2 separate regions of the Homo sapiens genome follow, and region 1 is reported to be linked to region 2. The links are microRNA targets in miRTarBase. Many come from high-throughput screens and were not tested one by one. Region 2 holds a microRNA gene; the other region holds the end of a gene's coding sequence.

The links. The annotated mature microRNA hsa-miR-205-5p reads UCCUUCAUUCCACCGGAGUCUG and lies in region 2 at 5,398-5,419, shown strand. An mRNA with a match to its seed (bases 2 to 7 or 8) in the 3' UTR can be bound and repressed. Matches are read on the target gene's strand: a 7mer-m8 pairs with bases 2 to 8, a 7mer-A1 pairs with bases 2 to 7 and ends in A, and an 8mer does both.
Region 1: miRTarBase lists MDH2 as a target of hsa-miR-205-5p. Seed matches in the 3' UTR shown: 7mer-m8 at 7,069-7,075.

Annotation. Positions count from the first base shown.
Region 1 is chr7:76,065,176-76,073,518 of GRCh38, reverse strand. MDH2 (malate dehydrogenase 2) reads right to left here. Exons shown (of 9, transcript NM_005918.4): 9 at 6,011-7,240. The coding sequence ends at 7,109. Among named protein-coding and RNA genes, the nearest start is that of MDH2, 21 kb to the right of the region's middle. RefSeq lists enhancers at 1,771-2,295, 8,071-8,120, 8,151-8,220.
Region 2 is chr1:209,426,769-209,435,162 of GRCh38, forward strand. It overlaps MIR205 (microRNA 205), which reads left to right and starts at 5,365; the gene lies at 5,365-5,474. MIR205HG (MIR205 host gene) reads left to right here and starts at 2,052. Exons shown (of 4, transcript NR_145437.1): 1 at 2,052-2,320; 2 at 2,413-2,640; 3 at 3,657-3,708; 4 at 5,436-5,781. RefSeq lists enhancers at 1,050-1,973, 6,206-6,803, 6,804-7,403, 8,002-8,394.

The sequences.
Region 1 (8,343 bases), not on the chromosome of region 2:
GGGCAAGCCACCGCGACGGCCCGGTGGCTACCTCTCGGCCTCCTCTCCAGGCCCAGCGCTCTCTCGCGGCTGCACCTCCAGGCCCAACCCCCACCTGCAGACAGCCGCTTCTGACTCGGTTTGTGCCCAGATCCCGGCGGCCTTCGTAGGCCCGAAACCTCCTCCAGCCCAGCTCTCCAGGCCCACCAGTGGCCTCGCAGCAGCCTCCCCGGGCCCAGCTCTTGCCTCACGGCGGCCTTCCCCGTCCGTGTTCCTGCCGGCCTCCCGGCGGCCTCGACAAGCCCAGCGCCTGCCTCACACTGGGCTCTTGAGGCCCAGCTGACGCCTCACGGTGGCCTCTCCAGGCCCAGCTGCCGCCCGCCCCAACAGCATCTCCTGGCCCAAGGCTATTTCAAGTGGGCCCCTCCAGGGCCCAGCTGCTGCACCCCAACCAATGGCCTGTGCAAACCCAAAGCGTCTTGAAGTTGGCCTCGCCAGGCCCAGCTCCTGCCTGTCGTAGGCCTCTGGACTTGAGGCACGGCCTCTGCCTCCTCACAGTGGACCCCCGCCAGGCCCAGCTCTTGCCTCAGCGTGGCCGCCTCAGGCCAGGCTTGTGTTCTGCCTGTGGGCAGCCTCCACGGGCCCAGCTCTCGCCTCTGGCCATCCTCTCCAGGCCCAGAAGTGTTTCCAGCCAGCCTCTCCAGGCCCAGAACTGTTTCCAGCCAGCCTCTCCAGGCCCAGCTCTCCCTCCCGGCTGCGCCTGCCGGCCCAGCTCCTGCCTCGCAACAGCCACGTTCGGCTCAGCTCCTGCCCAGCTCCTGGCAGCCTTTGTAGGCCCCAGGCTCCTCGAAGTGAGGCCTCTCAGGCCCCACCTTCGGCTCCCCGGCGGCCTGGAGAGGCGCAGCTCCTCGTGACAGCGGCCTCTCCGGGCCCGGCTCGTGCCTCACGTCGGTCTCCCCAGGCCACGTTGCCACCTGCCTCGCGGCAGCCCCGACAGACCTGGCTCTTGCCTCCCGACGGCCTCTTTGGGCTCATCTCGTGCCTCACCGTGACCTCCCCCAGGCCAGGCTCCTGCTTTTTGGCGGCCTCCGCAGGCCCGGCTCCTGCATCCCGATGACCTCTTTAGGCCTGGCTCATCCCTCTGAACGGCCTCTTTCAGAGGCCCGGCTTTTCCCTCGTGGCAGCCTCTGCAGGCCCAAGTTGGCAAGCCACCACCACGGCCCGGTGGCTGCCTCCCAGCCTACTCTCCAGGCCCAGCACTCTCTCGCGGCTGCGCCTCCATGCCCAGCCCCAGCCTGCAGACAGCTGCTTCTGACTCGGCTCGTGCCCAGATCCCGGCAGCATTCGTACGACCAAAACCTCCTCCAGCCCAGCTCTCCAGGCCCACCTGTGGCCTCGCAGTGGCCTCCCCGGGGCCAGATCTTGCCTCACGGTGGCCTTCCCCGGCCGTGTTCCTGCCAGCCTCCCAGCGGCCTCGACAAGCCCATCGCATGCCTCTCACTGGGCTCTGGAGGTCCAGCTCAAGCCTCACGGTGGCCTCTCCAGGCCCAGCTCCCGCCCGCCCCGACGGCGTCTCCCGGCCAAGGGTTTCTCAAGTGGGCCCCTCCAGGGCCCAGCTGCTGCCCCCCGGCCGATGGCCTGTGCGGGCCCAAAGTGTCCTGAAGTCGGCCTCGCCAGGCCCAGCTCCTGCCTGTCGTAGGCCCCTGGACTTGAGGCACGGCCTCTGCCTCCTCACAGTGGACCCCCACCAGGCCCAGCTCTTGCCTCAGCATGGCCGCCTCAGGCCAGGCTCGTGTTCTGCCTGTGGGCAGCCTCCACGGGCCCGGCTCTCGCCTCTGGCCATCCTCTCCAGGCCCAGAAGTGTTTCCAGCCAGCCTCTCCAGGCCCAGCTCTCCTTGCCGGCTGCGCCTGCCGGCCCAGCTCCTGCCTCGCAACAGCCACGTTCGGCCCAGCTCCTGCCCAGCTCCTGGCAGCCTTTGTAGGCCCCAGGCTCCTCGAAGTGAGGCCTCTCAGGCCCCGCCTTCGGCTCCCTGGCGGCCTGAAGAGTCCCAGCCACTGCCTGACAGCGGTTTCTCCGTGGGTGCCAGTAATCCCAGCTGCTCGGGAGGCTAAGGCAGGAGAATTTCTTGATCCCGTGAGGCGGAGTGTACAATGTTAAAAGTTTCCTTTTCAAAGTTTCCCTTCTTCATAAAGAATAAATCATAAGTTTTAGAAATAATTTTTTAAAAATTAGCTTCCTTGAGACCTCCTTGCTTTGTGCTAATAACTGTTAAGCCCTATACTGTGTAGCTGTTAGATAGAAAAGAGTAAGTACAGTCTATGTCCTTGTACTTTAAACAATATATTTGTGCTACACATGCTTACAGGCACATAGTACAGTCTATGTTCTTGTACTTAAACCAAGGTATGTTTGCTGGCTGTGCTCACAGGGATGTCTTAGCTTGCTGCGTTCCTTATTTTGGAATGTCCTTTTTTTTTTTTTTTTGACAGTCTCTCACTCTGTTGCCCAGGCTGGGGTGCAGTGGCACAGTCTCAGCTCCCTGCAACCTCTGCCTCCCAGGTTCAAGCGATTCACCTGCCTCACCCTCCCAAGTAGCTGGGACTACAGGCGTGTGCCACCATGCCCAGCTAATTTTTTGTATTTTTTTAGTAGAGACACGGTTTCACCGTGTTAGCCAGGATGGCCTCGATCTCCTGACCTCGTGATCCGCCCACCTCAGCCTCCCAAACTGCTGGGATTACAGGTGTGAGCCACCGCGTCCGGCAGGAAATGTTATAACTTTTCTATGTCTTTTCATAAGCAACTTCCTCTTTTTCTTTATTCTCCATTAGTTTTACCTATTTAGCAGTGTTTTAAGTTGTTAGCCAATCAGGTTCAGTTTAAATTGTAATTTCTAGCTCCAGTCAATGGAGACAACACACAGTAGCAAGGACAAGCTGCATAAAGGATAAAAATTGCTTCCCTCTTTTCTCCAGAAAGTAAAATTACCTTACTGAGAAAACTTCTTTGTCTAAATGCTGATTTTTCCTTGCAGTACTGGGGAAGAAGCATTTTGTTTCTGAATAAACATTTTACTCATAACACAGAGGTTGCAGTGAGCCGAGAGCTTGCCACTGCGCTCCAGCCTGGGCGACAAAGCGAGACTCCGTCTCAACAAAACAAAAAACAAAGACTGGTTCTTGGCTTCCCGTGGCAAAGGCCTTGGCCACATCATTTTGGTCCTTAACACCATACATGCAGCCACTGGTCTTTTTTTCCTCACAGAGGAGGACAGGAGTTCTGTGTGAGGAGGTGGCCAGAAGGATGGGAGGACGGATAATTGGAGCTTGGAAGTAGACGTGTGGTGAGTTTCATCCACACTGACAACTTCCTGATGGAGTTCTGGGTGGCAGAAATGGTGCTGGGAGATGCTGTTTCTCCTCCATGTCCCTATCATCCCCCCTCCTACTCACCACCACCCCATCTCTGGTCTTTAGCATCCGAGTGGTCCCTGCCTTCACGTCACTCCTAGTTCGTGTGCACCTGCAGCTCAGGCATTGCTGGGAAGCTGACTAGAAAATGCAGAATCTGGGCCGGGTGCGGTGGCTCACGCCTGTAATCCCAGCACTTTGGGAGGGCAAGGCGGGCAGATTACTTGAGGTTAGGAGTTTGAGACCAGCTTGACCAACATGGAGAAACCCCATCTACTATACAAAAATTATCTGGCTGTGGTAGTGGCGTGCATGTAGTCCCATCTACTTGGGAGGCTGAGGCAGAACTGCTTGAACCTGGGCCAGAGAGGTTGCAGTGAGCCGAGATCACACCACTGCACTCCAGCTTGGGCGACAGAGCAAGACTCCGTCTCAAAATAAAATAAAAATTTAAATTAAAAAAATCAGAATCTGGGCCCAGCAGCAGGCTCCAGGGACCCCCCTGCCAACCCGTCCTTGGTGGAGTGTGAGCAGCCTTGGCCACCGTGTCACCATCCTGCTCAGCTCCTGGGACGCCCTGTTCCTGCCATCCACAAGCTCTTCAGCCTGTCTGCTCCGGCAGCTGCCTATGACGCCCATCCCACCCTCCCTGCTGGTTGAAATCCTGCCCAGCCTGCAGAGCCAGAGCGTATGCCATCTCCTCCTCCTCCTTTTCCCTCCTCCTAGAGATCTTGATAGGGGAAGTCCTCCTTGATGCTCTGCCAAGACATGAAGTAACCTTGCCCTCCTCTGGAGTCCCACGGTACTTCCTCTGTGTTTGTCTTGTGGATTCTCAGTACCTGACTCGTCTTTAGCCCTGGAAGGCAGGAGCTAGAGGGTGAATAGCCCAGGGACGGCCAGTATCTCCAGGCCCCTTCATCATCATCTGAAAGAATCTAGGATATTCTACATTCCAGGTCCTCCCTTTAGGATGCTAGAGCTGAATTTCTGAGATGGAACCAGAAATGCGCTTTTTTTTTTTTTTTTTTTTTTTTTTGGGACAGGTCTCTCTCTGTCTCCCAGGCTGGAGTGTAGTGGCACAGTCACAGCTCACAGCAACCTCAAGCTCCTGGGCTCAAGCAGTCCTCCCACCTTAGTGGGAGTATCCTGAGTGAACTCTCTGGGAGGTTCTTAAGGGGTAGCCCCTGGTTTATGGAGAGAGGTAGTGACCACCCTCAACCAAGACACAACCTGACTTAGCTTGAGTCCCAGGTCCTGTCAGGGTTGTTGCAAGGATCCCATAAAATGGCAAATGTACCCCAAATACAGCCAGCATAGTGCTCTGCATATAGAACCACCAGGAGGAAACAATGCTAAAGTACCACGCTCAGAGTTCTGCTCTCTACAGCAGTGAAAAACAAAAACACCGAATTATCCACCCTCAAGGTTATCCAGCTGTGAAAAGAATGGCAGGGCACAGTGGCTCATGCGTGTAATCCCAACACTTTGGGAGGCCGAGGTGGGAGGATTGATTGAGGCCAGGAGGACCAGCCTGGGCAACAGAGCAAGTCCTCCCACCCTGATATCTTGTTTTTTTTTTTTTTTTTGAGACGGAGTCTGGCTCTGTCGCCCAGGCTGGAGTGCAGTGGTGCAATCTTGGCTCACTGCAAGCTTCGCCCCCCAGGTTCATGCCATTCTCCTGCCTCAGCCTCCTGAGGAGGTGGGACTATAGGCACCCGCCACCACGCCCAGCTAATTTTTTGTATTTTTAGTAGAGAAGGGGTTTCACCGTGTTAGCCAGGATGGTCTCGATCTCCTGACCTCGTGATCTGCCTGCCTCGGCCTCCCAAAGTGCTGGGATTACAGGCGTGAGCCACCGCGCCCGGTCACCCCCACCCCGGTCTCTACAAAAAATTATAAAATTAGCCGGGCGTGGTGGCAGGCACCCATAGTCCCAGCTACTGGGGAGGCTGAGGTGGGAGGATCGCTTGAGCCCAGGGGTTGGAGGCTGCAGTGAGCCATGATCACACCACTGCACTCCAGCCTGTGCGACAGAGACCCTGTCTCTAAAGAAAAATTTAGAAAAGTGACAAGGGCAAATACACACAGTGAAAGAAGTGGGGGGCAGCTCATCTCCATAAATGGCCATCAGAGTCAGGTCTCCCGCAGCCACACCCTTGTGTGGTTCCTGCCCATGTCATTGGGGGCCTTGTAACTTACTCTAACCTAGAGAATGCAGCGCAAGCGAAGCTGGGCCAGTTCTCAGCCCAAGCCTTAGAGCCTGGCAGCTTCTGCTTTTGCTTGTGGGAACTGAGTCATTCAACAAACATATGGACCTTGCTGTAGATGCGTTGTGAAGAATGAGAGGCCCAAGACCTCGGGGAAAAGGCCAGCTGTCCGGGCATCTCCCAAACACCAGCCTCGCGTGCTCCAGTCCAGCCAAGCCTCCAGTGACTGCAGTGGGAGCTGTGGGCATGTAACCACCCAGCTGAGTCCTGTCAACCCCCAGCGTCGGGAGATAGGAACAGAAATAGCCTAAAAGCCACCAGAGTGGAGAGGGCTGGGATTGTTACAGTAGCAGATAACCTGCAGAGCAGGCTTCATTCTCTCAACCTATGAAATATGCAAGAGAGGACAAGTATTACCAGTAGTTCCTTTCCCGCTTTATTTTTTAGCTGCTTTTTGGGTTTTATACAATGAACATGTATTAATTGTAGAAGAAAACGATGTCATCCTTTATGATAAAATCCATTTCCATTTTAGCTTTTTTAAAAAAACAAAAAGCTGTTGTGGACAGATGAACATCCAAGTACTGGGCACACCTCCAGCCCTCCCTCTTCCACTGAAGGCCATTGCCTATTCCTAGAAAGTTCTTTCCCAGGTATGCAGCTTTCAGTTTCCACTTCAGAGGCCACAGTGTCTGGGGAACGGACTGCCCCCAATACTAAAGGGAGTCAAATCTCTTTAATTCCGCACTCCTCAGTACAACAAGAAGTCCCTTCTTTAGGCCACTGATGGAAACCTGGAACCCCCTTTTGATGGCAGCATGGCGTCCTAGGCCTTGACACAGCGGCTGGGGTTTGGGCTGTCCCAAACCGCACACCCCAACCCTGGTCTACCCACAGTTCTGGCTATGGGCTGTCTCTGCCACTGAACATCAGGGTTCGGTCAGAAGATGAAATCCCAAGGGGGACAGAGGTCAGTAGAGGAAGCTCAATGAGAAAGGTGCTGTTTGCTCAGCCAGAAAACAGCTGCCTGGCATTCGCCGCTGAACTATGAACCCGTGGGGGTGAACTACCCCCAGGAGGAATCAGGCCTGGGCGATGCAAGGGTGCCAACAGGAGGGGCGGGAGGAGCATGTACGGGTAAACTGAATACTGTGTCCAATTCCATAAATTAACAATTTAGACTTTCTTGAAGCTACTGATGAAAGCGTCACGCTTCAGTCTAACAGTTAAACATCATCTAATTCTGATTGGTAATGAAGAGGTAGCAGACACTCTAAAGTTGGCTCTCACAGGGAAGAAAGCACAGCATTTACAGAAGGGACCTTGAAAAATAAAATCAAGGACGGCTTTTATTGATGCGCCCACAGAGCCACCCACAATTTGGAAGGCATGATGATGTCAATACAGTAATCATCACCAAAGCAAATTAAAATACAAAGTTTATCTGCAACGGCTTTGCAGTGACATGATGCCTTCATAAATTAAGGAAACTGGCCACCCGTCACAGCGGCTCACTTCAGGGTCTTCACGAAATCTTCCCCCTTCTTGATGGAGGCCTTCAGCTCGGGGATGGCATCCGAGATCATCTTCTCCTCAAAAGAGGAGACTTTGCCGATGCCCAGGTTCTTCTCGATGCCCTTTTTCTGAGGGAGATGGGAACATGTTAAAATGAAGTTTCCAGGAAAGTGCTTGTTAGAGAAACCCCGACCTGTCGCTCCATCAGCCCTGCCGAGGAGTCTCTCTACACATGCGGGTTCTGGGTGCCTTGCTGGGGACGCCTTGCTGAGCAGGTGGGTGGGACTGAGCTGCGGTCAGGAGTGCGAGGCTCAGAGCCAGAGGGTGCCAGGCAGGGGTCCCAGCACTGTGATTGTCTAGGCAGGTACCCTGGACAATGACTGACCTTCCAAATGTGTTTCCTTAGCTATAAAACAAGCACCATCCACCTTCGTGAACACGAGGACAATGCGACAAGCACCTGGACGCCAGGAACTCAATCATCAGGAACACTTCACCGTATTCTCCCCAACAGAGCCTGTTTCTGGGTTCTTGTCTCTCCCCGCAGGTTGGTAAAGGACTGAAAACATTGTCACAGTCACCTGAATCAGGTGTCACTAAGTAGGTAAATGTCTGACATTGGCAAAAACAGGCATCTCTGCCACCGTCTCACCTGCAGAAACTGAGCACAGTTTGTGTGGCAACAGCCTCAGTCCTCACCTCAACTCAATTCCCTCCTACTGCTTCCCCTGGCTCAAGGGCCTATGAGAACCGGGTGCGTCTCACCTGCAGGCCCTGCCATTCCATACACCTGCACCGACATGGGGACAGAACTATACCATCGAGTGCCTGTCTCTCACCAAGGCCTGGGGCCATAGCTGAAGGATCTTTCTGTATCGGAGCATCTCTGAGAAAGGTCCTGGGGTGGCCCAGTGAGCCATATTACTTTCTGGCCACGTGATGAAGGCAACCACACATCTGCCTCATTTCTGCCCACAGGTGAGAAATGGAAACTCGGCTTGAGGGGGTATGAGTAAGACCTAAGGGTTTCTGTTTGCTGAAGACTCAGGCTGTCTGGATGGGGCACACTCTCGAAGAGGAATTGGGCCTGGCCGCCCCCCGCAGTCAGAACAAGATGAACAAGGAGCGACAGGGAGGTGTTCAGGCGGGGTAGGGAGGCCTCCCTGGGCTGCCTGGAGATGGAGTGTCTTATCAGTCAATACTCCTGCAGCTGCTGGGCACCCGCTGTCAA
Region 2 (8,394 bases):
AGTTCTGGTCCATTCATTCCCTGTCTCGAGACTTCCGGAGCTTCCTGACCTGTGAATGAAATCCACAGGCCCATCACAAGATGGCTGCGCTCTCCAGTCCCCGGCACCCCAGGCTGCTCTGAACATGTGAGAGCTCCTCCCTCAAGGCCTGAATTTTCGCAGGTCTTCATCACACTCAGCCCGCCATCATTTTTTCAGATTCAGTTCCAATATGTCACTCTGTCTGTAGAGCCTTCCCTGAATCTCACAGACAAATGCGGCAGTTCCCTTTGTGGGGGATATTCATCATGTTTTTCCTCATTGGCCTATGTTTTTGCCTCTTCTTGTAGATGTCCATCTAGGCTGGGAGCTCCTAGGGGGTAAACGCAGCCTCTCACTCACCTGGCACAGAGTCGATGCTCATGGAATGATACGTGATGGGGAGAGTGAGTAAGTGAATGAATGAATGAATGCTATTCTGGAAGGAAGAGGGAGAGAGGGAGCAGGGAAAGGTCAGAAGGGGGCCCAGAGTCTTCAGCACACAATGTGGGTGTATCACTGTGGCCAGGAACAATTCGCTTCTCTGCCTGCATTACTTTTTGGGAAATGGGAGAGCTGAGGCTCAGTGTAGGCAAACTGGGTCCAGTCAGCAGGGAAGCCATGAGCTCCACGGTTTAGGGGAGGAGTCCGGTGCTTAAGGAAGCTATCACGTGGAAGATCTCCCTGCCCTCCTCCTATTGGTCTGTATTGGTTTTTCTTCTTCACCAGTGGAGGCTTTTCTTCTCCCAGGAAGAATCCAGAATAGTTCAGACAAGCTTCAGGTCCGCCAGAACCGGGGAAAACAACGTGTAGGGTTTGTTTTAAAGGGCTTTTAAATGGGGTTTGGGAGATCCAGGTAGATTAGAATCTTGACTCTGCACTGGCTGTGCAAGACAGAAATTCACCTTTCAAAACTTCTGTTCCCCAGTCTATGCGGTAAGAAGTTTAGATTAGCTGATTTCTAGGGAGATTTTGGGCAGGCATGATTCAGTTCCATGAAGGGCTGTGGGACAGGACTGCACTAAGAGGTCCTATAGATTGGATTCTTCAGTTCCCTCCCTTCCGCTGGAGAATAGAGGAATCTGCCTTCGCTGCACACTAGATTTACCTGGAGAACAAATGGAAAGCAGGCCAGGATCCTGGGTGAAATGTGGCACATTTGAGGAGACTTCAACTTCCCTTGCCCTCCAGGTGTGCACTTGGAAGGGGGAACGAGGGAGGGGGAAGCTGGCAAGATGGGCCGAGAGATAGGGGAGGGGCAGGAGGCGGAGCCCAAGTTGCGCATGGAAGCGGGGGTGGGGTAAAATAATCAAGTTTATAGACCGCCCTCTTTAAAGTTACTAATGAGCTTGCCTTCTCTTTCCTTAATTTCCCCTCGCAGTGTGGTCTTTTCCCCACCCCCAGACATGAAAGGGAAGCAGGTCACAAAGCCTTTCGGATTATAAAAGAAACACTTGCTTCTCACAAGGGGAGCAGCAGACTTACTCTGTACTAAATGCCAGGATAAGCCTCTGGCTGGGCCTCGACTGTGACCCTCCGGCCTCTTTCTACAGCTCTGCCTGGATGGACTGGCCTATCTCTGCTGGATTCCCGAAGTGCATTGTGTAGAGACAGCAACTCAGGTCAGGCTAAAAGCTCAAGCAAGCAAGCGCGCACACACACGCGCGCACACACACACACACACACACAAACACTCAGCTTCCTTAGGACAAGATAAAATCTTAGCATTCCCCTCTCCCCGATTAGGTAGGTCTCTGGGAGGACTAAGGCTTCAGGTGCAAGGCTCAGATAACCTGCAGTGTCTCTCCAACTCTGGGATGACAAAGACCTCACTTCCCTTTTCTGGTGTTCACACAACAATGAGAAAGTACGGGTAGCCTGCAGAAAGACCTCTCCATTCATGGTCCCCCAGGGGTGTGGGTTCTGAGAGGTGGGACCAGCTGCCAGGCCCTTTCTCCATTGGTTGAGTTCAGCAGGTAACCTGAAGCTTTGCTGAGAGGTGCATAAATAAAGAGTGAAACTAGTACCACCTCCTTGAAATGGGCTGAGTCCCTCTTGCTCACCCTTGACTTGGAAAAACCAGTTTCTCTTTTATTGTCTGTTACTAATCTCTATTCTAAAAATTCAGCTCAATTCTCAACCATACTCCAAACTCTCTCTTTTCCAGCTACCTTTACTCCCTCTCCTTCAATTCCACTTTCCTCTGCTTACTTTTTTTTTTTTTCTGACAGGGTCTCACTTTGTCGCCCGGGCAGGAGTGCAGTGGCTCAATCTTGGGCTCACTGCAGCCTCAACCTCCCAGGTTCAAGCGATTCTCCTGCCTCAGCCCCTCAAGTAGCTGGGACTACAAGCGCACACCACCACGCCTGACTAATTTTTTGTATTTTTTTGTAGAGGCGGGGTTTCACCATGTTGCCCAGACTGGTCTTGAACTCCTGAGCTTAAGCAATCCACCTGCCTCGGCCTCCCAAAGTGTTGGGATCACAGGCGTGAGCCACCGCATCCGGCCTCATGTTCTTTTTCATTAAAGAGAGAAATCAACTATTCAGGACCGGCCCCCACCTTTCCTCAGGAGTCATTTCTGTTCCGCACAGGCCTGCTGAACTGGGTGCTTTATATAGGGTAAGTGTTTCTCATTTTTTGTTCCCTGTCCTCAAGCCTTAGGGGCAAAAGAAACATCCAAGATTTGAAATTTCTTTTCTTCTTCTCATCTGCATGGCTGTAGCCATCTCTCTGTTCTGCATTATCTTATGACAAAAAAAAAAAATTCTTATTTTGAAGCAAACTCAAAGCTAGGTCCTGATGTCTCAAGGCACAGGTACTCGTACTTAAAGGTGAGTCTGAAATCTGTGGATTTGGGGAACTTTGGAAAAACAAAGATGAGTGGCTAGATCAGGGGGCTCATTGGGCAGGAAGAGGAGACTGGAAAATGCCATATTCACTGCAAGTCAATTATCAACTTCCTCCAAGGCTAAAATAGCTGAACCTGCTGCATTTTAAACCAATCCTCAGCCACTTTGGTGTTTTCTCAAGGATTTCCAGGGATCCCAGGCAGTAAATTCTGCTGATAATAGGAATTGGTGTGATAAGGTGGGTGCTGAGCAGTTTAAGCACCAAGATTGTAGCTCTGTCTGGTTTTGTGGAGATTTACTCAACTAGAAGAACAGAGATTTGGCTGGTTTTTCAGTCCTGGGGTGCAGGGTGCACCTGTACTGGAAAATTTAGGACGTGGTTTCATTCTTTGAGTCTCATGTTCAAGTTGGTTTTAATGTTATGAAGACACTTGGGACGTAATCCTGAGGGCAGCTGGGGGGAAGAAAGTGGTCACTGGATGGACTTACCCTGTAGCGAGCCCATGCATGGTTTGTTCTCTGATCGTGCATGTGCTTGGCTCTAGACCCATGTAACCATGGTGAAGGCCACTGGGGGATTCAGTTGGCAAAGGCATAGTGGGCAGAAGAATCTTGAACAAGGAGTCCAGAGCAGGTCAAGTCTCCTGATACAGGTTGTGACTCATGGTTTTTTGTCTCTGCCTGTAGCAGCTACAGGTCTGTAAAGCAAGGGGAGAGTGATAAGGAAAGAACTCACCTTTCTGGGGCTCTCTGACATTAATGCCACCTCCCATTTGCTTTTTGCAGACACTGTCATCTCTCAAGTACCCATCTTGGAGGGTACGGACCCCACATGAGGGTGAGGCTCTCTGCACACTCCAGAGTGAGGACTTTAATAATCTAGTGGACTGTACATGTTGGGAGGGGAAGAGCGGGGTGCCGAGGGTCTGGAGGGAGAAGAATTGACTGCCCCTTTTGCTCTTGGAGTTAAGCAGAAATCTAAAGAGAAGGCAAAGAATCTTGCCTTCCTGGCATCATTTCCTCCTACCATCCCAGGCCATCATTTATTTATTACAGCCAACAGACTGGCCTCTTTCTTCCCTTTGACTGGGAATGGGTCAAAGGCGGTGCAGGAGGAGGATCTGGTCCAGATAATTCACAAGCAGGGTGCATTTTCCTCTCATTATTGAGAACTGTGAGTGTTTATCAAGAAGGCAGAGCAGGAGAAGATGAACCAGTCTTCTTCCCCTCACTACCCAGATCTCTGCCTGCCAACAAGCCCCGTGTTCACCCTGGCAAAGAGTCTTTACATTCAGACCAAGGAGAGTGTGACTCCTTCTCAGCACTAGCTAGAAACCTCAAGCCCTTGCTTAAGGGCCTTTTTCAGAGAGACCCAATGCCCAGAAGGCTAGATGCGTGGGGAGGAGCCACATACGAGAAACTGCCTCCCTGCTTCGGGTCAGAACAAGCCCCAGGAAGAAAGTATTTCAAACAACAAGGTGCATCTGCCCCAACCCATCCAGCCTGCATGTTGGTGCTGAGAACAGCCTTTTATGGGGCTTGCACTGAGCCATGGGCATGTCTGAACACAACAAGGAAGAGGCCAGAGCAGCAACAGCACGCAAAGGGTTGATGGGCATTTCTTTTAAGACAGAGCAGAAAACTCTTAGATACTTTGCGTCCTTCCTATTTGACTCAGTCTATGAAAGCCAGGTTAGCTTGCTTTCTTCCTCCCTAAATCCTCCATCCTCATGACCAACAAAGAAATAGTTGAATCATTTTCCAGGCACATCTTGGGGAGGATGTGGGGCCATTGGAGGCTGTCCTTCCTAGATAAGTCTTTAGGAGTGAGAACAAGGAGTCTTACCCTCCTCTGTCCACCCACCCCCATGAATGGGCCTGGCTCCAGCCAGGAGTTGTGGTTTTTCCTGAGCTCCTCACCTATCTCTTCTGGATTTCACATTGGCAAACGGGGTTGCAAAGTGCTCTTCGTGCTCTTTGGACAGTGCCTTGTGGAGAGGAATGCCCATGCCCCTGCATTCCAAGGCCTTGGTAAGCAAGCTCAGAGTAGCTGGATTTTTCTAAAGCAATTGCAGAACACCTGCTTTTTCTTTGTTTCCTCTAGAAAGGACCAACCACACCGAGCTCAGTTATGGCACACACAGTGGGACCTAGACAAAGGGAGAGGGTGACCGACATCCCAACTAGGTAAACACAGAGGAGGTTCCACATGGACTTATCTGGGTGGCTGTTTTGAAAACGAGAAACAGTCAAGAGTCCCTGGCCCCACAGACCCACCTCCCCAACTCAGCACTGTCTGTCTGTGCAGCAGGTGCAAGGACGTGTTGAACTAGCTCTCTGCAGCCTCCTTGGAGGATGTGATCCTATGGGAGGGGTAGGAGTATTCAGGTCCTTGACATCTCCCAAATGTGTGATTCCGGGATGCCAAAGGCCTTTGGCCAGGTAATGCAGTGTCTACAGGCTGAGGTTGACATGCATCCCCACCCTCTGAGAAAAAGATCCTCAGACAATCCATGTGCTTCTCTTGTCCTTCATTCCACCGGAGTCTGTCTCATACCCAACCAGATTTCAGTGGAGTGAAGTTCAGGAGGCATGGAGCTGACAACCATGAGGCCTCGGCAGCCACCGCCACCACCGCCGCCGCCACCACCGTAGCAGCAGCAGCAGCAGCAGCAGCAGCAGCAGCAGCAGCAAGAGTAACTCTGACTTAGGAATAGAGACAGCCAGAGAGAAATGTGATCAATGAAGGAGACATCTGGAGTGTGCGTGCTTCTTCAGAGGGACGGGTGATGGGCAGATTGGAAAAAGCACCGCAGATGGGAACCTTAATCTTTCTTTTCTAAAATTGATGCTATGAAAATTTGCGTTTTCTGTAACTTGTAAAAACTAAAAGTTGCTTGTCTACTGAAAAGCCTCTCTGCCTCTATGTTTTATACCATCGGATGCCAACTCCCGGCCTTCTAAGCCACCTCCCCTTTAGGCTAAAACTGAGACATGAACTTGAAAAATTGACACTGGCTTCCTCTCTCTTTAGGGTCCCCAGGCAGGTGGCTGGGACACTATTTGCAATCAGCAAGGAACCCTGCTGCCCTTAGACTCCCCACAGAGCAAGCAGAACTTGCAGAATGGGGTAAAAACACTCTATTAAAGATTTTTTAAACCTATTTATATTGTAATAAAGTAAATGTAAATAAAATTTAAGTGAAGGCAGATTGCAGATATTTCCGATGCTATACAAGATATATCTCATAGTATGGGTGTAGATTCTGCAAAGGTTAATGCAGTTAAACATATTTGACACATAAAAATGTCAGATCCAACATTAATCATTCACCAATTGTAATTGCCTTTCTATGGGTCTCTTCTCCCCAAGACATAGCTTAAAACACCAGGCTCGGTAGAAATCTGGGAGGAAAAAAGCAAATAATACCTCTCAGCTGTCAGGGTCTATGATACGCTTTGATAGATTTAGCACTGATTTCATTCTCTTTACAATTCAGTGTGATTGGGTGTGCGTGTGTGTGTGTGTGTGTGTGTGTGTGTGTGTGTGTGTTACTCCATGTTTCTCCTTTTTAAGGAAGGAGAAGGTGTGGAACAAGAGAAAGTTCCTAAGTCTGAAGGAAGTCCAACCCAGTTATGAAGGGAATGCCATCCACAAGCCTTTTTTATAATTGGCCCCTGCCTCAGGTAAAGGGGTCTCCTTTAAGGAGCCAGTCTGGCTAAATTGGCAGATTCTGAACAAAGCCTGGCCCTGACAAGTCTTCAGAAAAACCGGTTTTCACCTCCAGAATGTGCCCCAGGCAGCAAAATACAATAGCTCTCCTTGGCTGAGTGGTGTTTTTCTTAGGAGCTCACTCTAAAGGAGATTCCAGCTTTGCAGATGGATACCGATCACTTGAATGGCCAAGCCCTGCCCCCCAGCCAGTGACCTCTGAGGGGGATAGGTCTCTTCACCTTCCCCCAACCCTTCCCTGGTTTTTGACCCCTGAGGGTCCCAGATTGCCAGCAGGAACTAAAAGGAATAAACCTTTCTCCAAAATATTTTTCTGTGTCAAGTTAATACAGATTTAAAACCTAGTTTCTGTCACCCCCACCCCTTCATTCCAAGACCCACAGGCAACAAAAGGATGAAGAAGCCAAGCCACAGGCATTTTTTAAAAACATGTTTACTCATAAAAATTGCGTAGCAAATCCAACTGTGGGGTGCTGTTTGTCCAGCAAACTCCTAGTTAACCAGCAAACACCTCCCATTCAAGGTCTGAAACAAGCCCTGAGATCAGAACAAAAAGCACACGACAGACACGATGTGGCACTTTTATTTGCAGCTTGGTTTGAGCCCTATGACCTGGAATCTTTTTATAGGAGATAAGTGCTTGTGTATTTATGTGCCACCTGGCCCAGGTGGAGGCAGGAACCAAAATGGCCAACAATGGTGACCAGAGGGTAGACTGTCAAACACTAGCCAGGGCACAATGCTGTGACTACAAAAGGTTCTACCTGATGTGCTGTTGGGTTCCCCCACACCCAAAGTCCCATGCAAATGCTATCTTCACAAGAGAGGCACAGGGCTTGGTATTTCTGGCACCAAGGTCTGAACTGCCCACTTCCTCCCACCAATGCAGCACAGATTGCTTATTCCCTCTTGCAGAAAAAGAAAGCCCCAAGCCTGGCCCAGAGCAGCTTGCCAGGGAAGCCAGTGTGTGCCCAGAGCTGGAGCAAGCTGCTCATCCATCTTCTATGTCCAACCCCCACTCTTTTATGTCTCATGTCTTCATTGCAAAGCATGACTCGCCAAAAACACAACACAGAGAAAATGGTTTCATCAAAATTCCCTTGCAACAACAACAACAACAAAATAATATTACCCTGCTTTCATTATTCACAATCTTTTATTGAGGCAAAAGGCAAATATCATTGAGCCAAACCTGGATAGACAAATATATACAACCACTGGTAATTTAATATTTTGTGCTAATGGTATACACTGTAGATACAACCCAAGAGGAGTAAATTACAATCCTATCAATAATATATCGCATCCGGGCTCCAGTTTCCCAGTACACGAGAAAATGTGTATTGGCAAAGGCTCTCCAAATATTAAAAGCCATGCATATAATGAGGCAGTGGGTACAGAAGCTAGAAACTCCCACAGGACTGTGCTGTGGTCTTTGTTATCAAGGCCCTTCGGGAGGAAATAGCCCACATCAAAGCTCCAAAACCTGATGCTAAATGCAGACATCCCATTCACATTCTCAGCCGATCTCTAGGTGAAACTTCAATCACAGAATAACCTATAATCAGGGCACCAGTTTGCAGACCGCTTGGAGCACTGCCCCAATTTGGACACCTCAGGTCTATGGTAGATGCCCAGGTTCTGCTGGGGTGACCTGTGGTGATGGACAAGGGACTCCAGAGAGTCCCAGTACAGCTGGCAATATCTGAGAGACCATGTGGCTTTGGAGCAGCCTCCCCAACTTGTATGTGATCCTCCAAAAGAAAAGTGGGAGGAAAAAAAGGCAAGTAC